7 linked regions of the Homo sapiens genome follow. The protein of the gene in region 3 purifies or fractionates together with the protein of the main gene of each other region. This does not show direct contact. Each region holds a gene or a part of one and is shown on either strand. Other genes may lie near its edges. The genes, in order: GPR89A, SLC25A23, SLC5A8, CYB5B, SLC25A46, TVP23C and CACNA2D1.

Region 1 (3,921 bases), on a different chromosome or scaffold from region 3:
CTATCACCACCCCTACATTGTTCATTTCTGCATCTGAGGCCTCACATGGGCCGGGTTTTTTGGTGAAACCTAGGTAATATTTAAAACCTTGGCCTCAAGGAAGTCTGAGAAGGGGCTTTTGGCTTTCTAAACTCTGTAGTACCAAAACAAATGCTGGAAAAGGATATTGGAATTAATGTTGAATGAGCCAGTGTCTATTATAGAATCTGCCATACCTCCCACACACCCTTCCATGTATACTGATTGCCTATAGCAGGAATTTCGGGAGAGAGGTTATGAGACTCTCCTGCAGTAAGATCAGAGGAGATATGCAGTTTTGAAAAGCATATGCAATACCATAAATAGTTGTGTATTTTTAAAATAAGAATAACTTTCAAAATTTCAAATAACGTTAAAGGCCGGAAAACTTAACATAACACCAGCCTGCCAAAAGCATTCAAACTCTTAGGTGGCGTATGAGACCTTTCATGACCTGGCTGCTGCTCTCTATACATGTTGCATTCTCCAGTCCTGTGAAATTATTTCAAGTTTCTTTTTTTTTTTCTTTTTGAGACAGGTCTCACTCTCACCCAGGCTGGAGTGCAGTGGCATGATCTTGGCTCACTGCAACCTCCGACTCCCAGGCTCAAGTGATCCTCCTACCTCAGCCTCCTGAGTAACGGGGACTATGGGCGCATGCCACCATACCCGGCTAATTTTGGTATTTTTTCATAGAGATGGGGTTTCTCCACGTTGCTCAGGATGGTCTCGAACTCCTGAGCTCAGGGGATCAACCCACCTCAGCTTCCCAAAGTGCTGGGATTACAAGTATGAGCCACCACACCCAGCCTCAAGTTTCTAGAGCTGTTCTATCAGCCTGGACAATCCTTCACCAACCCTGTCTACCTAGAAAATGCCTATTTATCCTTTCTAGATTCAACTCTTGTCAATTCCTTTAGGAAGATTTTCCTGGCCATCATTAGGAGATATTAATTGCTACCATCTCAAGGTATCTATATCATCTATAAAACTTAAAATTTCATGTTTCCTTTTCTAACTTCCTCATCAACCTATGGGCTCCCTGAGGTCAGAAAACTCCATGTTATTTGTCTTTGTATCCCCAGTGCCTAGTGTGGAAACTGACACATAACAAGTGTTTAATACGTGTTCTTTGAATCAGTGGATGGAAGAAAATTGAGTCTCTCCAAAGTGGTAGATGAGTTTACTACTTTAACACTCTGGATAGGAATTTAGGAAATGCTAATGTGATCAGCATGCCTATGTCAATGGTCAACAAAGGGAACGACTTGCACTAAAGAGTCCTGGTAGTATAGTTCTCATATAAACCTATTTCAAAGAAACCCACAGACAGACACATTTATCTGTGACGGTAGAAGTCAGAGAGAAGAGTTAGAAAAGGCCCCCAGGGCTGCTGACAGGGCAAATACAGTCTCACATGCACTACAAAGACCCGACTCTGACACCTTTCTCCAGCTTTCTCCTGTGTGCATTCAGCTCACATGACCAGTGCAGCCAGGCCGCACCAGAGGGAAGATGAAGGCCATTGTATCTATTGTCCTTTCATCCACCCCTTTTTCTAAATTCTATGGGATTACCCTGAAAAGGACACTGAGGGAGAAAGCTAGGGAGATAGTTTCAGTTTTATTCTTTCCATTGTACTCCAATAGGCATTACAGTTTTATGCCTGAATGTTCAGGTATCTTAATTTATTTAACCCTTTAAGATAAGTAAGGAGGAAGAAAAGTTTAGGTAGTAGCTGAGAAGCAACCAGCCTTACACTGCCTTCTTAGAGCTTTCCCAGGACTGTCCCAACAACCAGTATGGTTGTTTATTGCTGTGGTGACCACAAAAAAATGGGCTGGGCAGGTTGGCTCACCCCTATAATCCCAGCACTTTGGGAGGCCAAGGCAGGGATATCACTTGAGGCCAGGAGTTAGAGACCAGCCTGGCCAACATGGCAAAACCCCATCTGTACTAAAAATAGAAAAATTAGCCAGGCATGGTGGTGCATGCCTGTAATCCCAGCTACTCCCCGGAGGCCGGAGACACAAGAATTGCTTAAACCCAGGAGGCTGAGGTTGCAGTGAGCCGAGATCGTGCCACTCCCCTCCAGCCTGGGCGACAGAGCGAGACTCTACAAAAAAAAAAAAAAAGATAAGACCAATCCTTATGTAAAATGAAAAAAAGATAATCTGTAAAAGTACTTCTTGTGCGGTGTCTGAACCAACCTTGGAATGTCCTTAGTGGGAAAGAGTAAGAGAGATTACAAAAGACTGTAAGGAATCTGTGTGAGCAGGTGGCAAAGGTGAGATGATCTTCTGCTAGTCTCCTTATTCATCTGACTTTCCATGTATTAACTGCTAAATGGGGATAATGATGACTGACTCCTACTTCATAGAAATGCTGAGATTAAGTAAATAGTATCTACAAAGTACTTTAAACCAGAAAAAGATATGTAATAAAAGGACAAAGACACCATGTTAAAAGGAATAAAGGTAGAGGGGGAATTTTTTCAGTTTTTCAAATTTAATAGCCCATATTAATCTCTTGGATTTTTTATGTTACTGAGTGATATTATAGTCAACAAACATTTGTTGAACACCTCATATGTGCCAAGCAGTAAGGAAAACAAAGATCAATAAGAAATGATGTCTTCTTGTAAAGGGGTTGCAAATTCAAGAGGTATACGGCAAGTAGAATAACAGAATTTAGGTGAGGATTTATTCGTTCATTCAGCATTACACAAATATTTATTGAGCATCCACTTTATATAAATTAAGCACTGGAAATAAACCACAAACGAAACAAACTTGGTTTCTGCCCCCCTGAAATTGATAGTCTTGTGGGTGGAACTAGACAATAAAGAGGTAAATATATAAATAAATAATTGCCAATTGTGATCATTGTCATCAAGGAGTGAACAGGTTGCTGTGATAGAGAAAAATGCCGATAATGTAGTGCAAACAGTTAGATCCACCCTTTCTGAGACAGGGATATTTAAGCTGAGATTTAAAGGACAAGACCAAAGGAAGACCCAGCAAGAAGGCACAGGAGACATCATGTAAAGCCCTGAGGCAGAAAGACCTTGGTGTATTCAAGGAAAGGCAAGAGATAGAATGGAAAGTAATCGTATAGTGTATAGATTTTATTGTTAGGGTGATTATGTCATTTTCTAAGACAGGTAATGCAGAGGAAGGAACAAGTTGAGGGGAAAGATAATTTTAGTTTGGTATATGCTGAATTTGAGTTACTTATGCATATCCAGGTGATGTTAAATAAGCAATTGGATGTACAAATCAGGAGCTTAGGGAAAAGGTGTACATGTATCAGTCCTCATAGAGATGACTCCAGGAATCTAAACAACTAGAAATCATCAACTAAATGCCATTAGGTGAAGCTGGGGAAATTGGTGAGATCACCTAAGCAAAAAATGTGTATACTGAAATGAAAGTGAGAACTCTGGTCCAGACAGAGCAAGAAGTGACCAAGAAAAAGCAATTAGAGAAGTAAAAGGGAAAACCTAGGGAAATGGTGTTGTGGAAGCCAAGAAGATAAAATAATTTTAAACAAAAATGATTCAATGTCATAAAAGAGCCAATGAAACAAGGATTGGAAAATGTTGAATTTTGCAACCAGGGGAAAACTTATTACCATAGTGTCGTAGTGGTTAAAGCCCAGACTCTGGAGCTAGACTGCACTTGAATCCTGACTCTGCCCCTTTTATCTGTGTGGCCTTAACTAAGTTACTTAACCTCTCTGTGCCTCCATTTCTTCATCTGTAAAATTAGGTTTTCAATAATATCTACCTCATAGGATTGTTATGAGGGTTAAATGAATTAGAACATGTGAAATGCTTAGAACAGTGCCTAGTCATAGCAGGTGCTTGGTGAATATTACCTATTGCCATTACAATTACTAGTG
Region 2 (3,921 bases), on a different chromosome or scaffold from region 3:
GCCAGGAGCAGTGGCTTGTGCCTGTAATCCCAGCACTTTGGGAGGCCGAGGTGGGAGGATTGCTTGAGCCCAGGAGTTCGAGACCAGTCTCTATAAAACAATTTAAAAATTAGCCAGGTGGCCAGGCACGGTGGCTCACGCTTGTAATCCCAGCACTTTGGGAGGCCGAGGCGGGTGGATCACAAGGTCAAGAGATCGAGACCATCCTGGCCAACATGGTGAAACCCCATCTCTACTAAAAATACAAAAAATTAGCCAGGCATGGTGGCGGGCACCTGTAATCCCAGCTGCTTGGGAGGCTGAGGCAGGAGAATGGCATGAACCTGGGAAGCGGAGCTTGCAGTGAGCTGAGATCGTGCCACTGCACTCCAGCCTGGGTGACAGAGCAAGACTCTGTCTCAAAAAAAAAAAAAATAGCCAGGTGTGGTGGTGCACACCTGTAGTGCCAGCTACTCAGGAGGCTGAGATGGGAGAATTGCTTGAGCCCAGTACGCAGAGGTTTCAGTGAGCTGTGATCATGCCAATGCACTCCAGCTTCAGCAACAGAGCAAGATCCTGTCTCAAAAAAAAAAAAAAAGAAAGAAAGAAAGACAGAAAGAAGACACAGTCTTATTATTTAATGCATTCTTTACCCAAAAAGGGACTTTAAAAGTCTAAGAGGTTTTAGAAACCTTGGAGTTTCAAAATCTGTGTTTGTCCCTTAAAGGCTCCGAGAAGTCTCTCAGTAAAGTGATTTAACTTTTTTTGTTTTTAACCCAGTGCTGGCCACATTAATCTAGTCTTTAGAACTTTTTTTTTTCTTTTTTTTTGAGACAGAGTCTCACTCTGTCACCCAGGCTGGAGTGCAGTGGTGTGATCTCAGCTCACTCCAACCTCTGCCTCCCAGATTCAAGCAATTCTCCTGCCTCAGCCTGCCGAGTAGCTGGGATTACAGGTGTGCGCCACCACGCCAGGCTAATTTTTGTATTTTTAGTAGAGACGGGGTTTCACTATGTTGGCCAGGCTGGTCTTGAACTCCTGACGTCAAGTGATCCGACCACCTCGGCCTCCCAAAATGCTGGAATTGCCAGGTGCAGTGGCTCACACCTGTAATCCCAGCACTTTGGGAGGCTGAGGGGGGTGGATCACAAGATCAAGAGATCAAGACCATCCTGGCCAACATGGTGAAACCCCATTTCTACTAAAAATACAAAAAATAGCTGGGCGTGGTGGTGGGCACCTGTAATCCCAGCTACTCGGGAGGCTGAGACAGGAGAATCGCTTGAACCCAGGAGGCGGAGTTTGCTGTGAGCCAAGATCGCGCCACTGCCCTCCACCCTGGGTGAGAGAGCGAGATTTCATCTCAAAAAAAAAAAAAAATGCTGGGATTACAGGCATGAGCCACCACACCCGGCCGTCTTTAGAACTTCTTTTCAACAGATTGATCTTAATAATAACCCATTAAACATCTATTTGGCAAGTGCTGTTCTAGACCCAAAAGAAGGCTTCTAAAATTTCAAAGGCAATAATGTTAAGTACTTGCCTATTTTACCCAGTCTGTGCCTGGGCTAGGCATTACTAATCCATCACAGCACTGAGTCCTGCTCAACACAATTCCAGTTTCAGGCAGCAATTTCTGGTGGATTAGAATTGGCATAGGAAATGAAACCTATAAGCCTCTCCCAGCCGCAAAGCAAAGAAGGTCTTGTTCTTACAGTCACCTTGGCAGAAGGCTTCAGAAGGGATTAGCCACCCTAAAGTCTTCAGGTGCACAGTTCTAGATTCACATACAGCTGTGAATGTTGGTTCTCACCTTTATTTTGTAGCTTTGGGCAAGTAACTTCCCGAGCCTCAGTTTCTTTTCTATAAAATAGAGATAATAGGGCCGGGCATGGTGGCTCACTCCTGTAATCCCAGCACTTTGGGAGGGAGAGGCAGGCAGATCACTTGAGGTCAGGAGTTGGAGACCAGCCTGGCCAACATGGTTAAACCCTGTCTTTACTAAAAATACAAAAATCAGCCGGGTGTGATTGTGTGTGCCTGCAATCCCAGCTACCTGGGAGGCTAAGACAGGAGAATTTCTTGAACCCGGGAGGTGGAGGTTGCAGTGAGCTGAGATTGTGCCGCTGCACTCCAGCCTGGGCGACAGAACGAGACTCCGTCTCAAAAAAAAAGCAAAAAATTAGCCAAGCCTGGTGGCACATGCCTGTAATCCCGGTGGCATAAGCCTGTAATCCCAGCTACACAGGAGGCTGATGCAGGAGAATCACTTGAACCTGGGAGGTGGGGTTGCAGTGAGCCGAGATGGTGCCATTGCACTCCAACCCAGGCGACAGGGTGAGACTGTGTCTCAAAAAATAATAATAAAATAAAAATAAAGATAATTAGCCGGGTGTGGTGGTGCACAGCTGTAATCCTGGCTACTCCAGAGGTTGAAGTAGGGAGGATCACCTGAGCCCAGGAGGCGGAGGTTGCAGTGAGCCGAGATTTCACCACTGCACTCCAGCCTGGGTGTGAGAGCGAGACCCTGTCTCAATAATAATAATAATAGTTTTGGTCTTAGTTTGAGATCCTTCCAAAACAGACCCTGAAACTGGGACGTGAGGACAAGTGATTTATTGGGGAGGTAATGAGACAGGGAGTCAATGCACACAGTATGAGTATGTTAGTTTCCTAGGACTGCTGTAACAAAGTATCACAAACTGGTTGGCTTAAAACAACAGAAAGTTATTGTCTCACAGTTCCAGAGGCCAGAAGTGCAAAATCAAGGTGTCAGCAGAGCCATACTCCCTCTCAAACTTGTTAGGGGAGAATCCTTCCTTCCTTCCTTCTTTCAGTTTCTGCTTGTTCCCAGCAACCCTGGACATTCTTTGGCTTGTAGATACATTCACTCAAATCTCTGCCTCCGCTGTCACCTGGCTGTCTTTCTCCGTGTGTGTCTCTGTCTTTCTCCTCTACGGACACCAGTCATACTGGACTAAGGGTCTACCCTGTTACCCTACTCATCTTAACTAATTAGATCTGCAAAGACCCTATTTCCAAAGAATGTCACCTTCTAAGATACTGGGGGTTAGGACATCAACATGTTCCCCCCCAAAGGAGGGACATGATTCAACCCGTAACAGTATGTTATCAAGCAAGTTACTATTCCTAGCAAATGGAGTTCCAGCCCTCTAGAGATCTGTGGGAGGCAGCATAAGACATGCTGCACCAGAGAGATGAGGGAGCTGGGGTATTGATCCACCAGGTCAGTCTTTTGAAGGTTGCATCTGGAGATGCTAATTTCCCAGGGCTTTCTGCCCATTCCTAAGTGGTCAGAGCCGGCTGGCCTGCGTTCAGAGAAAGTCCACAAGCAAAGTCTTTGGGTAAATGTTGGCAGTAAGAAGTCAGCAGGTCTGAATTGGAGTGGGAAGGGATGAAGGTGGTGTACTCACAGCATCTACCACAGGCAGTGTCGTTGGAGAGTGTTTTTTTGTTCATTTGTTTGTTTTTGAGACAGTCTTGCTCTTATTGCCCAGGCTGGAGTGCAGTGGTGTGATCTTGCCTCGCTGCAACCTCCGCCTCCCCGGTTCAGGCGATTCTCCTGCCTCAGCTTCCTGAGTAGCTGGGATTACAGGTGCCTGCCACCACACCGGCTAATTTTGGTATTTTTAGTAGAGATGGAGTTTCGCCATATTGGCCAGGCTGGTCTCGAACTCCTGACCTCAAGTGATCCACCCATCTCAGCCTCCCAAAGCACTGGGATTACCAGTGTGAGGACGCCAGGCCCGACCTTTTTTCTTTTTGATACTGAGTCTCACTCTTGTCGCCCAGGCTGGAGTGCATCACGGCTCACTACAGCCTTGAATTCCTGGGTTCAAGCAATCCTCCCACTTCAGCCTCTTGAGTAGCTGGGACCACAGGCATGCACCATCACATCCAGTTTTTTTTTGTTTGTTTGTT
Region 3 (4,544 bases):
AGAAGCAGCCAGTATGCTGCTAGGCATATGTCTACGCTGCTTCACATTCCTAGTAGCTTAACTTACTCTGAGTCTCTGTCCACAAAATGGGGCTCTTGATAGTACTTGCCTCATAAGGATTGTTCTGAATGTGAGTCAGATAATGTATGTAAAACATGCAATGCAGCCCAGTGCCTGGCATGTGTTCAGCATTCAATGAACTTTTGCTTTTTGACATTTTTAGCTGGAACCCCTGCTAACTTAGCCTCTACCACTGCAAGCATGAGGGAAATCTGTTTCTGCTTGAGTTAATGTTGTAGCCCCGAAGAGGCATGGGTCAGTGGTTATGAGAGCAGCATTCATGTGTGGGGACTGAAGTCCTCCTGCCAGATTCTTCAAACCCTTTCCAAGTTTGGGAATTGGTTAGCTATAGATCACAGCTCACAGACTCAGATGCCTCCAGGTTCCATCAGGTAACATACATAAGTGACAGTGGCCAGGTGTTCACATATTAACATGTTGGAATATTCCTCCCACCCACTAAGATATATGTTTTCTTACATCTCCCTGGAAACAAGAGATCCCTTTACCCCTGTCCATTTTGCCTTTCACATTTTTTGATAAAGACATAAATGCAGATAAAAATTTCTCTACCAAAAAAACAGTAACCATGAAAACACAAAGATAAGACTTCAATATAGAAGTTTAATAGAGAGTGAGAGCAATAGCTATAAACTTGAGTTCCTGTGGCCACAGGGAGCATGGGCCCAGTGTTACCAGCCTTTTGAGTTCTCGAAAGAAGTCATAGTCTGAAATTATATTTTATTTCTTCTCACTATAAGGAGAAGTAAAAAAAAAAAATGACTGAGAAGTGAATTTGGTCTGGGGAATTTCGCCAGTTTGTCACTTCTGAGCAAACCTGAGAAACTGCATCCTGCTCACTTCTGGGATAATTATTGAGCTCTCCCAAACACAGCCCCAGAGTGAATGGAAGGCAATGCTGCCCAGGGGTGCCTCGCCCTGGAAGATGTCACTAGAGCCCAGGCAGAGTGTGTCACCAATGTTTGTTGTGCCGTTAAGGCCCTGTCCCCAGCACCAGTTGAACCAGCCTCACTAGGAAACCACCTGCCAGAATCTCAGGATTGGAGTCCTCTGGGTAATGGCCTAATAGAGAGGAAACTTCTGCAGGCTTGTCCCATGTAGCTCAAGGACCAGTGCTGGGTGAGGGAGACCACTGAAGGCACTGAACTGGGCCCCGCCACTCCCCTGAGCTTTGATCCCGCCCCCACCTCCCATTCAACAGCTCTTTAAACTAAACGTGCATCATCTTTTCAAAGCCCTTTCTTGCAGACAACTTGAGAAAACCTATAGCCAGGGGACCTGTGCAATAGAGGAAAGACAGTTTTCCTTAATTGTCTTTCCATAGAGAAGGCAGAGCTGTTTGAGAACCTTGCTGCCTAATTTTCCTACTGATCCCAAGATAACTACCACCATCACAACTAGCACCACCACAGTAATTATGGCCAATACCTATCTGGCACTTACTCTGTGTCAAACTCTATTCTAAATGCTACACCTTGCATCATCTCATTTAATCCTCCCAACTGGATGAGGTAGGTGATATTATTTTATTTTTGAGGAATAGGCACAAAAGGTTGGGTAAGTCACCCAAGGTCACCCAGCTAGTAAGTGGTAGAATCTGGTCCGAAATACAGGTACTGGTACACCTTAGCCACTTGGGTGCCTGTTTCAGTGGAAAGGGGGTGGGTGTGGAAGGGGAAGGAAGGGGAGTACAAATTCTTTACCAACTATCTTGGAAGAGTGAATGGGGCTGAGGACCTGGAACAAGAGTATTCCTTTCAAGAAGCAGGGCCTGAGACCTGAAGAACTTACCTTCCCCAAAAATCTTTCCCCTTGCCTGGGAATCAAAGATGCTAAAGGTAGAAAGGACCATAGCGAGCACTACTGTTGCAATCCGTTCACTTTGGAAGCCTCTTTTTTTCACTAAGCCCAGGAGAGTAAATCCCAAGAATTTTTTCACCCTTAGAGGACGCCTCTCAGTAGAAGGGAAAGATGCCAGGTGAAGATCGGGGGACGGGGAGGAGTGAAGGGAGGGTGATGATGACGATGGACGGGGAGAGATTTCGATGTGGCAGTGACAGTCTGCCCCCAAGAAAACGCCTCCAGAGGTCTGCAGAGTCCCCTTCCCCCGCGCCCTGCATGGTCCCAGCCCACCCTGCCCCTTACCTCGTAGGTGCTGGTAATTCCCAGTTTGTAGAACACCGGGAGGAAGACCTCCGCGCTGATGACCACCACAAAGAAGTAGGTGAAGGCAAAGATGCTAAAAATGGCCCCAAAACGGTAGACCTCGGAGGGGGTGCCCAGGACAGTGACGGCTGACATGAAGCTAGCGGTGAGGGACAGCGCCACGGGCACTGCGGTCATTCTGCGGCCGCCCATCAGGAAGTCCTTGGAGGTCTGCTGGCCGCCCCCAGCGAAGGCGTAGTAGATGCCGATGGCGGCCGAGATGACCAGCATGCCCGCGAACACCACGTAGTCCCACACCACGAAGGTGCCGATGCCCCGTGGCGTGTCCATGGCCGCACGGTCGCCTGAGCCCTGCGCGCAAACTGGTGGCCCCGCGGCGCGCAGCCGGAGCCCGGCGCGCACTTCTTATCCCGGATCCCTGGCGCGCAGGCGTGGCGTCCCGCGGGGACTGGAGGCGTCCTCCAGGTGTCGGCCTCCGAACGCACCCCGAGGCGGGGTGAGGGCTGGCAGTCGCCCCTGCACCCGCCGCTGCGAGCCGCGCCCCTCAAACCCAGGTATGGGACCTCGGAAAATCGACCCGCTGCCCTGAGTGCTCACCACGTGAGGAACTGGAGTGGCCGAGTTCGCCAAGGCGCCGGGGACACCTGAGCAGATGAGAACTGGAGCCTCCAGCTGCTTCCAGCGAATCTACACAGGGAGCGCTCTGGGCAGGTTTTGTTCAAGTGGTACCCGAGGGGACGCACCATTTAAATAAGCAGGCGACCGGTGGAGGAATGTGGGACAAAGGGCAATTGTCACGCCTTGAATTTTAGCTTTCCAGTTCAACAGTCCGGGTCCTTACGGAAAGGGACGCCTGGAGTTTTTAGACTGCCTTATTTGATAGGTTAATGGGTGACAGTAGATTAATGCAGGTGACAATCTGTAGTGAACAGAGATCACAGTCCTTAGACAGGTCATCGATCGTAAAGGAGAGCAGGAAATCTGTGCTACTGTTTCCTTGTGTTTTTACTCAACAAACGTTTCTGAGCCCCTTCAGCCTGTTGTTGGAAATAGTAGTTATTGGAAGATTAACAATAATATCCGCTTTTTAATGAGCCTTCATGTGACACATACATGCTTGGCACGTTTTATATTAGTCAGTGTAATTCTTTTGGTGAACCAGTGTAATTCTCATTACCCTTGAGATAGGCATTTTCAAATGCAGAAATTACTGTCGAATGATTAAGTCACTTGCCCAATCAACTGGCAGAGATTAAGATCTTTAATCTAGGTCTGATTTCAGAGTTTGCTCTCTTAATCACAATGTGTAGATACGTGTTATAGGTAGGCAAAATGTGTACACTTAAATGAAGACACTTGAAAACACTGAAGAAAAGATCATTTCCAGCATCACCACTCAGGACATATTTTAAGTGGCTTGTCTTGAAATACTATTAACACATGAATCACACTCAAATAATATGATTCTCAGGTTTTCCTTCTAAAATAGACGCTCCAGCCAAATGTGCTCAGCTATCAATCCATTTCAGGCAGTCCTTGTTCATTTGTATACAACTTTATAATATACCATCTGGTCCTAGGTAAACAATCCACAGAATGCATTTAGTCTAGCCTAGTGTATGATAAAAAAGCTATATCAGATTTTATTTTTTGTAAACTGATGTTATTTGTATAATATTTTCAGAAGGAAATAAAGAGGGAAATAGAAACTAAATCCAAGTAATTCAATTGGTTAAACAAATATGTGGTTTGGAATTACGTCCTACCAGTGTGAAATGTACTATATTTATATATTACATATGATGTTATACATACTTATATATAATACATAAATTATATGTGTATATTATATAACTTATATATATATATAAAGCAACCTGTTAGAGTAACACACAAAAGAATCCACCTTGATCCTTCTGGGAATTGGATTCACTTCTGGGAACTTCTTTAAAGCCAACAGCCCTAGATATGGGAAAATGCTATCTAAACAAAATTCATCTTCTTTTGGACACCTAGAGTTAAGAACAGAACTTCAGGCAGCTAATGATCAATACATTTCTATAGTCATGTTAGAAGCAGAATAGTCTGAGGTTAAATCTGTAGACTGCAAACTCACCTCTTGACTGCCACCTACGAGCCATGATATCTTAGCCAAGTGCTTTCTTCTACGTCTTAGTTTCCCATATCTTAGATGGGGATATTGGTTTTTATCTCACGGAATTAAAATGGGTTAAATGAGATTATATGTGAATAGACCCTGACACTATAAAATACTAGCACTGTATGATTGTTTAGCT
Region 4 (3,921 bases), on a different chromosome or scaffold from region 3:
AACTTTTACTTAATATTTTAAAAAAGTGTTGTGCTTTCTCTTGTTTATAAGTGGTGAGAGACTGATGAAAGTGAAAGTACTTGTAGAAAGAACTGTGTAGCAAGTCAAAAATTCAGTCATTCCCTGAAATGTTGTAATCTATGAAGGAGTTTTATTGTCCTTTTACTCTGAAAGGCAACACAATAGTTGGGTTGTGTCAAAAGGAAAAAATATCATCCATAGTTTAGGTGTATAGAACAAATTGGGACATAATTCCAGAACTGATGACTTAGTTCCACAACAAAGAACAGTTTCACATATAATAACCTGAGAGTTTCAGATATAATAACAAGTGAATCGTGGCTGTCTTACTCTTGCTGTAAAATAGCATTCTTAAATACTGGGATGTGAGACCCACTCACTGGGTGGAGACCTTTTAGGAGATAAAAATAGAAGTTATCCTTATCCTCAGGGAGCTCATAGGCTGGTGACTATGACTGGGAAGTAACACTTACAGTTTTTATACTTCAATTGAATTAACATTTATTTAAAATAGGAATGATAATTTATTCCTGCTGAAATGGTTGTTATAAAAAGTAAAAAGCATTAATATTTCAAAAATACAAATTTTGATATATTAAATAATATAAATTCTAAATTTGCTAATTTAAGTAAATGTTTTTTGAGTATTTAAGTCAAGGACTGTGCTAAATATAATTTTACAAAATGGTTAATTTTCTGAGTAAGTAATGCTTTATTTGGTAAAACAGTTTCAGAGGCTGGGCATGGTGGCTCATACCTTTAATCCCAGCACTTTGGGAGGCCGAGGCTGGTGGATCACCTGAGATTGGGAGTTCGAGACCAACATGGAGAAAAACCCCGTCTCTATTAAAAATACAAAATTAGCTGGGCATGGTGGCGCATGCCTGTAATCCCAGCTACTTGGGAGGCTGAGGCAGGAGAATCGCTTGAACCCGGGTGGCAGAGGTTGCGGTGAGCTGAGATTGTGCCATTGCACTTCAGCCTGGGCAACAAGAGCGAAACTCCATCTCAAAAAAAAAAAATTTTTTTTCAGAAGAGTATGTGGTGAAGTCTTCCTTCTACCCTATCTCCCAGCCACTAGGTTCTTTCACCATTTTCAGAGAGATTTTATGCATGGGTATAAATATGCATATATATATCTTCATTTAAAAATTGTAGATGGTATTATATTATGCTCTTCTGGAGTGCAAAGTGTTTTATATGCTTATCTCATTTAATATGTACAATAGTTGTCAAGACAGGTACTCTTATTAATATTTCCATTTTACAACTAAGGAACTAAAGACATCTCAATTTTTTAATAACTTGTGCAGGGTCACATAGCTGATAGTTATAGAATCTACTTCCTGAGGCACTACTTTATATAGTTAACTTATTTATTTATTCATTTATTTTGAGTCAGAGTCTCACTCTTTTGCCCAGGCTGGAGTGCAGTGGCGTGATCTTGGCACACTGCAACCTCCCCCTCACAGGTTTAAGTGATTCTCCTGCCTCAGCCTCCTGAGTAGCTGGGACTGCAGGCACCCACCACCACCATGCCTGGCACTTTTTGTATTTTTAGTACAGACGGGTTCACCAAGTTGGCCAGGCTGGTCTTGAACTCCTGATCTCAAGTGATCTGCCCGCCTTGGCCTCCCAAAGTGCTGGGATTACAGGCATGAGCCACCGTGCCTGGCCTAGTTAACTTTTTAATTTGAAACAATTTCAAAGTTACAGAAAAGTTGCAAGAATAGAATAAAGAATTGCATATACCCTTTGCCTGGAGTCCTTAGTCAGGTTTCTGCAGCTATCTCAATAATATTGGCAAAAGGAACCAACCTAGGATCACCCATTATTCCCAGTTGTCATGAATCTCTAGCCTCCTTCAATCTGGAACAGTTTCTTCACTCTTTCTTTGACTTTCATGACTGTGGTATCTTTAGAGATCACAGGCCAGACCTGTCCAGAAAGATTTTGTAGAATATTTCTAAATTTGTGGTTGTCCCAGGTGTCCTCACTGTAATCCCCATATGATGCATTTTTGACCACAGTATCACAGAAGTTATGCTGTGTTCTTCCCATTGCATCCTGTCAGGCACCACACAATGTCAATTTGTTCCATTATTTCTATTAAAGGGAGAAAGGAAGAAGGGGGTATGGGAAAGTAACTTGTTGGTTTGCTTTTCAGAGAACCCTCGGTTCAGTAAATATCTTTTCCTTGTAGCACCCTGGAGGAGAAGAGGTTCTGCTGGAACAAGCTGGTGTAGATGCAAGTGAAAGCTTTGAAGATGTAGGACACTCTTCTGATGCCAGAGAAATGCTAAAGCAGTACTACATTGGTGATATCCATCCGGTAAGAACTATCAGAGATGGGAGCCCTTATGCAGAGAAAACTACTTAACAGCTGCAGAACAGGATGAAGAAATGAATTATTGGCTGGGCGTGGTGGCTCACACCTGTCATCCCAGTACTTTGGGATGCCAAGGCAGGCGGATCACTTGAGGTCAGGAGTTCGAGACCAGCCTGGCCAACATGGTGAAACCCCACCTCTACTAAAAAATACAAAAATTAGCTGGGTGTGGTGGCGCACACTTGTAATTCCAGCTCCTCAGGAGGCTGAGGCACGAGAACTGCCTGAACCTGGGAGGCAGAGGTTGAAGTATGCCAAGATTGCACCACTGCACTCCAGCCTGGGTGAAAGAGCGAGACTCTGTCTCAAAAAAAAAAAAAAAATTATTAAAATGGAAATTCATTCAATCTAGCCATCAGGCTAAATTTTCTCCAAAATTGTCTAGTCTTACTGTGCTAGGATATAGCTTCTTCTTTGCCAGGTAGCACATGTAATATCTCTAAAAAGCTAAGGGAACTGATTCTGGATTATTTTTATGTGTTGATTTATTTTTGTAATGCAGTTAATAACACCTTTACCTAAAATAGTGGTTTGCTTGTTTTTGCAAGCTCCTTGCTAAAGGTAGTAATTATGGACTTTAAAAACTATCCATATATACCATTCTAACAAGGGACTCTGATATGCTCAGAGTAGAGGTATCTTTCTATGGATCCTCAAATCTCCCAGGGAATTCACTATCACCAGAATATAGTCTCATGTTCCAAAGTTAGAAACAAGCATATAGTGAGAATTCATTTGGCTATGTCTTAAAATATTATTTGTTTTCCTTTTTTTGACAGAGTGACCTTAAACCTGAAAGTGGTAGCAAGGTAAGAAGTCAGCGGTTTGTCTTGTGTTTATATTTGTGTTTACTCAAGTAGGACTGCTTTTTGAAACATTTTTTCTTAACAAGAGAAGTTACAAAGTATTTACTTTTTCCCCAAGCAAAAATCCTATTTTTCTGGAATTTGGACTCAGTATCATCTCAGGAATAAAAGAATAGCTGAGTCTTGAACAGTAGGAAACATTTTGCTAATGCCTTTATACGCTTTTTTTTTTTAACTGAAACTCCAAAGCTATGCCCTGTGTGGTTTTGAAAGAAATTAGTTTATGGGTTCAGTTGTGGAAAAATATCTTACTTTTACATTATGTAGGACAAGTGATAATAATTGTTTCTGTGTTGGAAAAAAATAATTGCAAAGTTGTTTTGTTTCTTATAGGTTATCTTCTTTATCTGTAATACAGAGGCCTTTCTGTACTTATTTTCCAAATTTAATTCTTTTTTCCTGTAGGCTCAAACAGGCCCACACCCTTCCCGGTTACTTAGTAATACAGCGAAAACAAAAGACTAAGTATTTGAGTGTTTGAAAACTTTAATGTGTACTACATTGCATACCAGGAAGAAAATATGGAACCATTTTCTGCCTCCCACATGCTAGGTGGTTCATTTCCCTTATTCCCTAACAATTTTCCTTAATTTCTGTCCTTCAGATAGCTGGTACACAGCACTCTAATTTAAAGGGACAGCAGTT
Region 5 (3,921 bases), on a different chromosome or scaffold from region 3:
GAATTGTATTTAGAGGGAAAGCAGGTGCAAAAACTCTCAAGTGGGACTGTGTCATGTGTGTTGTATCACACATGCTTAAGAAGTAGAAAGGAAGCTGTTATGGTTGGTGCTAAGTAAGCAAGGGGGGAATACAGGAGATGAGGCCTGAGTGGTAAGAGGGGACCAGATTACATAGGACATTGTAAATCATTGTAATAATTGGGCTTTTGTTTGAGAAGGATGGAAAGTCTTTGATAGGTTTGAGCAGAGCGGTGGTGTGATCTGACTTACATCTTTATTAGGATCTCTTTGACTGTTGCATTAAAAATAAACTGGAGTGGGAAGGATGTCAGGGTCAGAAGTAGGAAGATGGATTAGAAGGCTAGGCAAGCTCACTGTCATCTCATAGTTTTAAATATCATCTATTTACTAAAGACTCCCACATTTATAATACAGTGCTCCTCCACTCACGATGGGATTACATCCCAATAAACCTGTCATAAATTCGAAAAATCTTAGGTTGAGACATCGTAAGTTGGAAACCATCTGTAGGTCCATTGTGTACCTTTTTCTGTAATTTCTATTGTGAACTCCATTTGGAGTTAATTTACTTAACATTTCTGAACTCTTGATCTTCACCAAATTGCTACTCTGGCAATTTTTCATCTCAATAAAAGGCAGTGCTATTCCCCCAGTTCCTCTGGACAGCAACCTTGGGGTTATCCTTGACCCTTCTCTTGCATACCCCAAATGCAATTCACCAGTAATTCCCATAGACTTTGATTTTAGGATAAAAGCACAATTGAACCACTTTACTTCTGTTGCCACCTTCTAGTCCAAGCCACCATCATCTCTTTGTTACTGGAATCATTCCAGTAACTTTTGAACTGGTTTCTCAACTGATCTTGTTCTCCTTTGCACAACAGCCAGTATTCTTTCAAAATACAAATTATGTCATGTCCGTCTTCTGCTTAAAATCAACCAGTTATTTCCCATCTGACTAGAAGCCAAAGTCTACAGATTAGTCTCTAAGGCATGATATAGCCCCTGGCTACCTTATAAATTTCATCTGCTACTTTCCTGCAGTCATTGCTGCAGCCAAAGTGCCTTTTGGCAAGTTCTTTTCTATCTATCTATACCTCGGTAATCCACATCAAACTTTCTTATTCATATCCCCAAAATTCTACAAAAGCAGACATTGCAGGTGGTAATAAGACTAACATTTATTGAGTGACTCCTGAGTGCCAAGCCTTTTTTCATTTAATATTCACAACAACCCTGTGCATAAAAAGTAGACAGTGCTCATTTCCATTTTTGTAGAATGCGAAACTGTGCTTAGGAGAAGTTAAGTAACTTGACAATGGTTACATAGCCAGTAAGTAATGGAGCCAGGATTTAAACATGTTTAAGAACTATAAGCACTATATTGTCTCCTTAAGCGTTACATAGTTATTGCCTTTCCATGTGAGTTCTAAGAAGTTTCTTGAGATGTATCCACCTACACATCTCCCCAGTCTCCCTACCCCAATAAGATTAGCTCCCAACTTCACTGCTAGCAATTTTATGAGATTTCATTTGAAAAAAAATCTGATGCCTAGATAACAGTTAAAGTCTGCAAATCATGGATGTTTCCCTCTTCAGTCACTATGTTAGGATTTAAAAGGAACCTAAAAAGAGTCCTTTTTCTGTGGCAAAATAAGCAAATGTTAAGTTTTACTTATTTCATCATTTTTATTTCAGAGTGAGATAATTCGAGATAATACTGGCATTTTGGAGTGTGTTAAAGAAGGAATTGGAAGAGTGATAGGCATGGGAGTGCCTCATAGCAAACGACTTCTTCCGCTTCTTTCCTTGATCTTCCCTACGGTGCTTCATGGAGTTCTTCATTACATCATCAGCTCAGTTATTCAGAAGTTTGTCCTACTAATTCTAAAGAGAAAGACTTACAATAGCCACCTAGCTGAGAGCACTAGCCCTGTGCAGAGTATGTTGGATGCTTATTTTCCAGAACTTATTGCTAACTTTGCTGCCAGTCTTTGTTCTGACGTTATACTTTACCCATTGGAAACAGTTTTGCACCGCCTTCACATTCAAGGAACACGCACAATAATTGACAATACAGACCTTGGCTATGAAGTGCTTCCAATTAATACACAATATGAGGGAATGAGAGACTGTATCAATACCATAAGGCAGGAGGAAGGAGTGTTTGGTTTTTATAAAGGGTTTGGTGCTGTTATAATACAGTACACACTGCATGCAGCTGTTTTACAGATTACCAAAATTATTTACTCTACACTTCTTCAAAATAACATTTGAGATTTAGGTTCCTTCACTGAGTAGTCTGGAAGATATAATCTGGATAATTTGCTATGAAGTTATGAGGGATACAAGTGAAATACTGGGGAAGAAAATGGATTGGAAAGTAAAATTGGTACTAAAGCCCATACTGATTATCTTGACTTTGTTTTTTAAGGCATAGGTATATATTTTGGATCAAAATCCTTCCAAATTTGAAAACTCAATAAAAATAACACTTATTAAATTCTAGTTAGTGTAGCACTCATGCTGAAGTAAACATGATCGTAGGCAGAAGCAAAATTTTATTATAAAATCTAAAACAAAACTTTATAGAGTTGAATCTATTCCATCTGACTTCAATATTTGCCAAACGTTTATTTTACCTCCTAGATTGATGTTGGTATAGTATCCTTAATACAGTGTAGTATATTAATGTCCTTAATACAATCAGGAGGTTTTTACCTTTAAGCAAATAAATTATGTCATTATTGAAAAAGACTTAAGGGATGATTAGACTTGGCAATCTGTAAGCAGGAGTATAAATGTTTTAAATTGCATTGTCCCTATGTAACTATCTTAATGGCTATATATATGTATTTTATAAAGCCATTTATGTATACACATGTAACTTGGAATTTCCTTCATCCCTACACATTTTCTACACTTACATCACCTTATTGCATAAAACAAAGTCACGCGCTTTCTGCTTGAACATCAAAATATCAAAAACCAAGGTACCCAAAAGATACAAGTCAGAGACAACATCCTTGTCCATATCCAAACCCAGTGTTTCAGTGCTAGCAACTTAATTTCTCATACATTTATAGAGTTTGGTTTGCTTTGCTAGTTGTGTGAATCATTGGGCTGTTTTTAGAGCCACTGTTAAGAGAGAATATAAAATAATCATGACAATTACTACTGTTTCCACATTTACAAATTGTGTACTTAAATGAACCTCATTTCCCTTTTATTTCTGAATGGCTTGTCTGAGAGGAAACAAAATTAAAATTCATCTGGGAATTTGTGCCTCTTGTCTAGTATATAGTCACCACTAAATAATGGCTTCCGTTTTTATTTTCTTTCAGGTTTTGCTTTAAATTTTGTTTTCCAAAATAGATGTACGTGGAGGGAAAAGCAATTATTCTTATCACCTTTTATTTAAACTTCTTTAGATGAATACTGAAGAAAAATCCAAACCTTAAAGGAAATGTGCCCTTGTATTTTATGGGTGAGGGGAAAAAGTACATTTGTACATTTCAACATATAATAAGCAAAAAAATTACTAATCAGTTTAATAAAAACATTTTGTCTATTCCTAAATGTAATTTGGTGGGTTAAGCACTTTGTGTAGTAAAATGATATGTGTCTGCTCTATCATTAGACATTTTAAAGTTTCATGTCTTCACGTGAATAATCACAGTTGTATCATGAACCATTTAGCGCTCTGAAGCACAGTGACTTTGCACTGATATTGTCCAACCAAGAATGCATACGAATAGAAATTCATTTTACTTGCTAAATGTCACAGAAATGGTTACTTTTTGCAAATAGTAGTGTTGGAACAAAAAAGTGATATCCAAAAAGTGTAAAAACAGTAATAAGTAGCAAATCTCTCGTGTGTGTGTGTGTGTAGTTACTGAA
Region 6 (3,921 bases), on a different chromosome or scaffold from region 3:
CCCAAAGCACCTACATTTTCTACTCCAAAGAAACAGAACTAGAAATTAATAGAAAGTAGTTGTTGAAATTGGAATTCTTTTAAAAAAGCGAACTACTACATATCTTGGGTTTAAAAGGAAGCAAAAACTGTAAATATAAGTTATTTATACCTTAATGGTGATCATTTACAGTTAAACTTTCTGAATATGTCAAAAACTGAATTCAGAGGGAAAATAATAGACTAAAGCCTTTTATTTTAGACAAGAAAGAGGGAAAATAATGGACTACTTGAGTCCAGAAATTTCAAAAACAAGCAATAAGTGTGAGAAATCAGGAAAATAAACTAATAAAGATAAAAGCAGGAAATAAAGAGTTAGAAAATGGAAACAGAAGAGTTTGAAAGTATTCTGAGAGCATTCTTTGAAAATACCTATAGAAGAGACCTCTGGTTTAGGTCTCCCTTGCCAGCTCTTTTTTTTTTTTACTTAGCATCTCTCCCATAGGAATTTTGGTCTCATAAGACTCTTCCTTTTCTTCTCCTGTATTCCCTTCCTAAGGAGTGCTGTCTGTGCTTCTGGTTTGAATTGCTGATCTGTAAGCTGTGTTGCCTCCCAGATCTGTATCTCCATTCAGGTTTGTCCTCACAACTTAAGGCCTCTCCATGTGTCTTCTTGACGTTTTTATGTGGCTGTCTTGAAGGCATCTCAAATCTTTTTTTTTTTTTTGAGACAAAATCTTGCTTTGTCACGCAAGCTGGAATGCAGTGGTGTGATCTTGGCTCACTGCAACCTCTGCCTCCCGGGGTTCAAGTGATTCTCCTGCCTCACCCTCCTAGATAGCTGAGACTACAGGCATGCACCACCATCCCTAGCGAATTTTTGTATTTTTAGTAGAGGCAGGGTTTCACTATGTTAGCCAGGCTGGTCTTGAACCCAAGTGAGCCACCATGCCTGGCCAGGCATCTTATATCTTAACATGTGTAAAATACTACTTGTCATCTTCCACTCCCCAAAAGCTCTTCTTCTTTGAGTGTTCCCTTTCGTGGGGCCTGGAATCACTATTTTTTTACTTGAGCAAACCGTAAATGTATCAGTTGCCTCCTTCCTACTCCATATCCAATTAATGACCAAGTCCCATAAATCCATAGATTGTACTTTCTTCATTAGGGCATCAGTGCCTGCTGCTCTATCTGGAATGCTCTTCTTCCTCCCACATCACCTTCATACAGGGATTCCTAATCTTTTTATGCCATGGGCCCCTTTCATAAACTCATGAATAAGTTTTCACATATATAAAATACATAAGATTTCAAAGGAAGTCACTTATATTGAAATATAATTTAAAAATATTAAAAAAGTAAATTTCTGATTGAGTTATATGTGTAGTAGTTCCCCCATTATCTGAGGTTTCGCTTTCTGCGGTTTCAGTACTGCTATATGCTACGCTAAACAGTAAGATACTGTGTGAGGAGAGAGAACTACATTCACATAACTTTTATTAGATTATGTTGTTATAATTGTTCTATTTTTATTTCTTATTCTCTTACTGTGCATTATTTATAAATTAAGCATTATCATAGGTATGTACTTATAGGAAAAAATATAGCATATATAAGGTTTGGTATTAACCACAATTTGAGGCATCTGCTGGGGGTCTTGGAATGTATCCCCTGCAGATAAGGGAGGACTACTATACTTTATGAATTTATTAATGGTAAGATCTAGTGGCAGGTCTAATAACTACTTTCAAAGCAGTGGTGAGCATAAACAATATGTTAAGATAACTGCAGCAAGTATAGTACAAAATGAAAAATGTCTGTGGTTTCTATTGTGTCAGGGTGTTTTTAATTTTACCTATGTTCATAGTTTGTTGTCTACATTCATAATTTAATGATATGCTAACTACTTTCAAAGCAGTGGTGAGCATAAATAGTATTTTGAGGCCGTGCGTGGTGGCTTACACCTGTAATCCCAGCACTTTGGGAGGCCAAGGCGGGTGAATCACTGAGGTTGGGAGTTCGAGACCAACCTGACCGACATGGAGAAACCCCATCTCTACTAAAAATACAAAATTAGCTGGGCATGATGGCGCATGCCTGTAATCCCTGCTACTTGGGAGGCTGAGGCAGGAGAATCGTTTGAACCCGGGAGGCAGAGGTTGTGGTGAGCTGAGATCGCCCCGTTGCATGCCAGCCTGGGCAACAAGAGCGAAACTCTGTCTCAAAAACAAAAAACAAAACCAAACAAAAAACAAAACTACAATATTTTGAGGTAACTGCAGCAAATATAGTACAAAATAAAAAAATGCCTGTGATTTCTATTGTGTCAGGGTGTTTTTAATTTTACCTACATTCATAGTTTGTTGTCTACATTCATAATTTAAAGATATGCTAAATTTTAGCCAGAGGTTAATGAAAATGAAGGTAACATTTTTTTTTACCCATCGAGGTTCACAGAACCACTGAATCTATTAGTGGACACCATTAATTAAACATCCATGGTACTGTTGATTCTTATTTATCTTTTATATTTCATTCCAAATGTTGACTCCTCAGAGAGTCATTTTCTGATACCCAGACTAGATCAAATTTCCCTGTTATACTCTTCAAGCATCCCACACTTTTCCCTTGCAGGACTTAACTCAGTTGGTAATGGTACATTTGTGCATTGGTTGTCTGCCTCTCTTCACCTCTTTCCCTGAGGAAGGAGTTGGTATCTGTTAGTCACTGTTGTATTACCAGCACATAGTAGATGCTCAGTAAATATTTGTTGAGTAAATAAAGATTAGGAAAGCTATCAAACTAATTTGTTACCTTAGTAAGTAGGAAAAGAGCTTGGTACACTTGAGAGACTGACTGAAGGCCAGTGTCTATAATCATTTTCAGGGATATGTAGTTGTAAAATATATGTAGCTATAGTCAGGATGTAAAGTAGGTCACAGTAACCAAATAGCAAGGGGTTTAGGGAAAATTAGGGAACTGGAGAAAGGGCAAATTGTTCATGAGGGAAAAGAGAAGGTGTAATGTTTATGGGTGGACTTGTTGCTTGCTCTGTCACCTCTACCCCTATTAGTCCTGCCATTACCATTTTACTTAATCGTTTAGCCAGGCCTGATACATAGTAGTCTTTGCTAACTGGATATTATGGAGGTAAAGCTGAAGGTTTTTGTTTGTGAAATGTTACACTAAGATAGGAGCTTGTGACAGATCTTTAAATAATGCTTTTAAAATGTGCCTGTTTATATTAATCTTCACCAGAATGTCACAGGTAGACTAATGGTTGGCCTACGTTGGTGGAATCACATTGATGAAGATGGAAAGAGCCATTGGGTGTTTGAATCTAGAAAGGTAAAGTGCCTTTTTTGTTTTAAATAATGTTATCAGCTAAATTATTTGTAGACTATATTTAAATACTGGAAGATGAAGTATTCAGAATTAAAAACACTATACCAAATCACTTGGCATGTCAGCACTAAAGGAGATGGCCTTCTAGAATTTAATGCATTTTTCTGTCTAGTTCAGACCAGAAACAAGCAATATACGAACAGAATCCTTTGAGGGAAGACACTGGGTCTGAGTTCATACAGTGTGCTAAGCTGCCTGTCAGGGATTGCTGATAAAAGATCTCTGTGTTGCCTTTGTTAGTGTCTCCATAAATCCCTCTATGCTCAGCAGATAACTGCTTTTAACATCTTGTTCTGTCTTTGCTCCTGTGGTCGTCTTTCATTTCTGGGCAGGAAAAAGGAGGAGGAGTGCAGCTGGATAGAATATCTGATTGGAGCACTCTATTCCTAAGCTTCTGCCTTCAGGAGCCCTGGGGATCCTGGTCTGTTTTGGGTTAGCCTGCTACACTATAGTGAATATTCACTTTCCTTGTGGAAATAAGTTTTGGAAGCAGAGGACCAAATTCTTGGCGACAGTACACCAAGGGTATTGACAAGTT
Region 7 (4,621 bases), on a different chromosome or scaffold from region 3:
TGCGCAGCTCCTGCTGCCACAGTATCCATGCCTAGCATAAAACAAACTAAGTTAAGTCACGGTGGGGTGCCTTTTGTGAGGCCACTCAGAGTAGAAAGAAACAAAGAGCAAGACAGAGATGCGAAGAACATAAAGAAAACAAATAAGGCATTAAAAAAAGGAGAAATAAGTGGGAAGGAAAAATAAATTCACCAGGCTAAGCATCATAAAATCACACACGCTCTTAAAATTTGGCCAGTAATTAATAGTAGTAGTATTATTATTAGTCTTTGTTTTGGGAGATTGCCTTCAGAGAGCTGGAAAATTCATTTCGAATTAATAAGGGTCTTTTTCTTTCAGAAGCATCTCCTAAAAATAAGAACGGGCTAATTAAAAATCTGACAGCCACCCCGATACTTACAGAATTTTTGCATATGCAGGATAGTCATCACAAATTGTATTCTCTGCACGTCATGTCAAAAGTATTCTCATACACTACTAGAGGGAGCTTAAGAATTTAAGGTGTGCAAGAATATATTTCTATCTTTGGCCCACCAGGGCCCTCTTGTAGGAGGCCTGTGTTGGGCGGGAGAGGCCTAGTCGCAGACCCTGTCTTTTCAAGGAGAAAGCCCGCCACTGCTTCCTCTGAGTCTGGAGATAAAACCAGTCCGGCATTGCTACTCCCTAGCTCTCTCCCCCTCCCTTAATTCCTCCTCTACATTTCAGGCGCATTTCTCAGAGTGCCACCTGTTCCTGCTGCTTACCCTTTTCATGCCTTCGCATTGACAAAAGTGAGCTCACCCTGCGGTAACCTTGTCAGGCAGGGCAGGCCAGTGGCCAGAGCAGGGCGTTAGGACCCTTTTGGAGGTAGTCCCAACTGGGATGCTGCAAAGCGCTTCTCTTACTACTGTCCTCCCTAGATGCAGAATTCGTCCCTCCACCCCTCTGTCCAATGGAACCACAGGGCTGGGAAGATTTTACAGCGTCAGTACTTCTCTGTCCGTCCACAGCCCGGTCCCTGAGGCTCTGTCCTCGCCAGGTGAGCCGAGCAGTACCTGGGCGTGGGACCGCTGGCACAAAGGGCACCCAGCCCCGGCAGAGGCTCTAACCTATGGCACACGCGGGCATATAGTGCCACCTGGTAGAGAGTCAACAGTGGTGCTTTAAAATGCAATACAAACCCCTCCTACATTTGTTGTCAAATCACTTCACGATTCCCAGGCAGGCACTGGATTCTGCGCCTGGGAGTAGGGCTGGGGGGGAACGCTGCCTGCATGTGCAAAAATAACCCCCGAAGACGCGAGCCAAGTCCTGGGTTGGAGCCTCTGCAGCCTGTGGATGCCCGCTGGGCGGCTGGCCGTCCCCCGGGAGCCCCGCGGGGCTGGTCCGCTCCGCCTGCGCACGCCGGGCGGCGGGAGCGAGCCGGCGCCGACTTTGGGAGTTCCTGGCTGCCTTGTATGGAGGGCTGCTCCCGGCCCGTCTCCGCCCGACTGCTCTGACGCCCAGCCCTCCCGCTGCCCACCCCCAGCCGCCTCCCTCTGACTTGCCTAAGAAGCCAGACGGAGCCTCTCGCTTCCACAAGTCTCTCTGCCTGCCATTCCCCGATTCCTGCAGCCACCCCCACCCTCCAGCGCCGTCACCCCTCCTCCGCCCCCGCCCCCGCCTCCGCCTTCGCCTCGGCAATCGGGGGAATAAATCAGGGAGGAAACCGAGAGGGAGAGCGAGAGCGCGCGAGCGCCGGCGGGCTCGCCGAGGTCTGTTTCCAAAGTCGCCCTTGATGGCGGCGGAGGCAAGGCGGCCGCGGCGCGGAGCAGCCGACGCACGCTAGTGGGTCCGCCCGCCACCGCCCCTTCCTCGGCGTCCGCTCCCGCCCTTGCCGTCCCCCGCGCGGCTCCGCGCCTCGGGCCCCGGGCGCAGCCAGCCCTCCAGACGCCCGCGGTCCCGGCGGCGTGTGCTGCTCTTCCTCCGCCCGCGGTTTCCAGCGCCGCTCCTTCCCCCGCTTGGGCAGGGAGGGGGCATTGATCTTCGATCGCGAAGATGGCTGCTGGCTGCCTGCTGGCCTTGACTCTGACACTTTTCCAATCTTTGCTCATCGGCCCCTCGTCGGAGGAGCCGTTCCCTTCGGCCGTCACGTAAGTCGGCGGGCCGGGCAGGGAGCGCCGGCCGAGGGGCGCCGCGGGAGTTGGGGGTGGGGGTCGGTTCCCGAGTCGCGGGGCTTTTCCGCCCGTGGGGGTGGGGAGCGAGCGGCCGGGGAGCCAGGCTCGGATGCGGAGACGCCGGGCAGGCGGTGCGCGCCGCTCGCCGCTGGAATGCGTCCCGAACCGGCGTCTCGGGCGCCTCCACGGGGCCGGGCACTGGGGGCCGACTGTCCCGGGAAGCGCCCGCCGACGACTCGCGGCGTCTCAGCCCGTCTCTAACGGGATTCTCTAGACTTCAGAGTGCAGCCGTACTGGGGAAAAAAGTTTCCAGCCAGCTCACCCGCTCTGATTCAACCCAGTTCAATAAAAAGTTATGTTTTGGTTGGGTAATTTACAAACAGGTAATTTCAGGCTTGCCGAGGTAGCGTGGACTTCCCCCGCACTTGGCCTCGGAGATGCTCTTTAATTGCTGTAGTGCCCAAACTCGTTTTATCCCACGTTACTGGATGCACTTGACAGCCTTCCGATTAGACGCGTGCTGGCTCCCCGCGGCCGAGCGTGCTGTCCACGCAGGGGGCTCGCAGGTACTGGGACCACGCGATCCAACCTCCCCAACCCATTATTTGAAACATCTAAGTGTCGGCAGACACGCGGTCCCTGTTCTTCAAATGAATAGAGCCTATTCTTTGAAGGAGGGACTATTTCCAGTCTCCTACAAATTTTCTTTTATTTTTACCATTTCTAAAATAACTTTTAAAAACCTCGCTGCTGTTCTGGAAATAGAGGGCTTATAGGTAGCTATAGTCACACCACAGGAAGGGAATGAAAAATAATAATTCTCTCCTTTCTTAGCAAAATAGAATCAAACTCAATGGCACATATAAATATATACATATTTTTTAATGCACCGAATAGCCTATCCGGCATTCTGGGAAAGCATTTATTTTGGTTCTTGGAGCTTCTTTAAAGCTTCTAAAGGTAGGTAATCTTAAGTGGATGAGTCACTTTAATGCATTTTACATAACAAAAACAAAGCCCAAGGTAGCTTTCCCGGTATTTATGCTGCTGGGAATTACTTGCTGTCCTTTGTTGGCTGAGTGCTGAATACAGGAGTTTTTGGTGGAAAGTAACAGTGAATCTTTAGCGGTTGAAATCCTGCGGCTATTATTTAAGATTCAGTTTTAAGTATTTATTACCTTAGGTGTCAGTGCAAGAATCTGGAGGATGCACATTCTATCCCGGAGAAGGGGAGTGTCTAATTTTTGTTGTCATTGAGTTACAGTAATGTTCCTCTTTAGATAATCTTCCATAAAACTGATTGCAGATCCTTTTTGTTATGAAGCAAAAGGGTAAATGCCATCTGGAGATCTTCGTTTAATTGGCAGGATGTTCCAGTCAGATATTTTTAAACATAAAAAGAGTAAGAATCACCCTAAGGATGCTTCAGAATTATTTACTCTTATTAAGGCATCACACTTCCATTTAATTTTTTAAGTCTGTTTGTTGCTTGGCCTGTAAAGTGAGAACTCAAATGAGTCGCTTGCATTCTGTGTCAAATAAATAAGTGGCTCTTTAAAAAACAATCACTTCCTAAATGTGTTCCGATTACTCATTTTTACAGTGTTGTTTTTAACTGACAATTTATCAATATTTTTATCATGGGAGGGGATACATCATCATACCATTGGGGAAAACTACAACAAAATACAACCTTTTATTCCTCAACATACTGTGGTAAAATATTAATGTAAAAATCCTTATTGTTAAGAAGAACATCTGCAATAATGCTTTCCTAAAATTATAAGTAAATCAATTTTCATGGTCAGAAATTTACTAGACACAAGAAAGAGTATATATAGTGGGTTAAAATGGGAAGTAGGACATCACAATTTCTTTTCTTTGGAAGGATCTGAAATTTTTTTTAACGATGAAAATTCAAGATATTTTCAAATTATATAAGACATTGATTATTTAATGAATGAAATACTTAATAAAAGGTTTTGTGGAGCGAAGTCAATCTCCTGTAGGTAATCTTAACAATATTTTTGGAAGCCTTCTGCATCTTCAGTTTTTCATTTGAAAAGTTAGTAACACTGTCTTCTGAGGAAAGAACTGATGGTTGACATTTGTACTTCATGTTAGATTTCTGAATAAACTTTATGAAATTAAAAAATGCAATATTTTTCATAAAGATGTGCCATTTGCTTTTCTTTCGAGAAAAGAATTCATATGCACTGTTTAATCAGGACAAATCTCAAATCTTTGGGGGAAAATTTCAAATTTATAAAAACTGAGTGCAAAGACTGTAGTGTCAATAAAGGCAAATTATTATGCTTCTGTATGTAAATTTCTCTCGGAATCATTAGTAAATATTTTTGGGTTTTTTTTTTTGCCAGTTTCATTTTTCACAGAAAAAGTAATGTAAGAAGTTTTTATCAGCTGAAGAGGAAGAGCATGCCATCACACACTATAAAATTAATTATGCACTAATTGGAGTTGGACTT

What was found.
Region 1: the proteins of SLC5A8 (region 3) and GPR89A purify together in Homo sapiens (affinity purification with mass spectrometry, with the first as the bait; 2 studies listed by BioGRID). This does not show direct contact.
Region 2: the proteins of SLC5A8 (region 3) and SLC25A23 purify together in Homo sapiens (affinity purification with mass spectrometry; 2 studies listed by BioGRID and IntAct, with this or other methods). This does not show direct contact.
Region 4: the proteins of SLC5A8 (region 3) and CYB5B purify together in Homo sapiens (affinity purification with mass spectrometry; one large-scale study listed by BioGRID and IntAct). This does not show direct contact.
Region 5: the proteins of SLC5A8 (region 3) and SLC25A46 purify together in Homo sapiens (affinity purification with mass spectrometry; 2 studies listed by BioGRID and IntAct, with this or other methods). This does not show direct contact.
Region 6: the proteins of SLC5A8 (region 3) and TVP23C purify together in Homo sapiens (affinity purification with mass spectrometry, with the first as the bait; 2 studies listed by BioGRID). This does not show direct contact.
Region 7: the proteins of SLC5A8 (region 3) and CACNA2D1 purify together in Homo sapiens (affinity purification with mass spectrometry; one large-scale study listed by BioGRID and IntAct). This does not show direct contact.

What each region holds. Positions count from the first base shown.
Region 1 is NC_000001.11:145,624,812-145,628,732, forward strand, and holds part of GPR89A (Golgi pH regulator A), read left to right. Parts: intron 1-3,921. UniProt on the Homo sapiens protein: Voltage-gated channel that enables the transfer of anions such as iodide, chloride, bromide and fluoride which may function in counter-ion conductance and participates in Golgi acidification.
Region 2 is NC_000019.10:6,445,912-6,449,832, reverse strand, and holds part of SLC25A23 (mitochondrial adenyl nucleotide antiporter SLC25A23), read left to right. Parts: intron 1-3,921. UniProt on the Homo sapiens protein: Electroneutral antiporter that mediates the transport of adenine nucleotides through the inner mitochondrial membrane. Originally identified as an ATP-magnesium/inorganic phosphate antiporter, it also acts as a broad specificity adenyl nucleotide antiporter.
Region 3 is NC_000012.12:101,207,272-101,211,815, forward strand, and holds the start of SLC5A8 (sodium-coupled monocarboxylate transporter 1), read right to left. Parts: upstream 2,968-4,544; 5' UTR 2,578-2,967; coding exon 2,227-2,577; intron 1-2,226. UniProt on the Homo sapiens protein: Acts as an electrogenic sodium (Na(+)) and chloride (Cl-)-dependent sodium-coupled solute transporter, including transport of monocarboxylates (short-chain fatty acids including L-lactate, D-lactate, pyruvate, acetate, propionate, valerate and butyrate), mocarboxylate drugs (nicotinate, benzoate, salicylate and 5-aminosalicylate) and ketone bodies (beta-D-hydroxybutyrate, acetoacetate and alpha-ketoisocaproate), with a Na(+):substrate stoichiometry of between 4:1 and 2:1.
Region 4 is NC_000016.10:69,444,926-69,448,846, forward strand, and holds part of CYB5B (cytochrome b5 type B), read left to right. Parts: intron 1-2,224; coding exon 2,225-2,353; intron 2,354-3,189; coding exon 3,190-3,219; intron 3,220-3,921. UniProt on the Homo sapiens protein: Cytochrome b5 is a membrane-bound hemoprotein functioning as an electron carrier for several membrane-bound oxygenases.
Region 5 is NC_000005.10:110,759,485-110,763,405, forward strand, and holds part of SLC25A46 (mitochondrial outer membrane protein SLC25A46), read left to right. Parts: intron 1-1,719; coding exon 1,720-2,298; 3' UTR 2,299-3,921. UniProt on the Homo sapiens protein: Transmembrane protein of the mitochondrial outer membrane that controls mitochondrial organization.
Region 6 is NC_000017.11:15,546,464-15,550,384, reverse strand, and holds part of TVP23C (Golgi apparatus membrane protein TVP23 homolog C), read left to right. Parts: intron 1-3,236; coding exon 3,237-3,326; intron 3,327-3,921. Other genes in the region: TVP23C-CDRT4 (uncharacterized protein LOC100533496), read left to right, coding at 3,237-3,326.
Region 7 is NC_000007.14:82,440,855-82,445,475, reverse strand, and holds the start of CACNA2D1 (voltage-dependent calcium channel subunit alpha-2/delta-1 isoform 1 preproprotein), read left to right. Parts: upstream 1-1,698; 5' UTR 1,699-2,016; coding exon 2,017-2,111; intron 2,112-4,621. UniProt on the Homo sapiens protein: The alpha-2/delta subunit of voltage-dependent calcium channels regulates calcium current density and activation/inactivation kinetics of the calcium channel. Plays an important role in excitation-contraction coupling.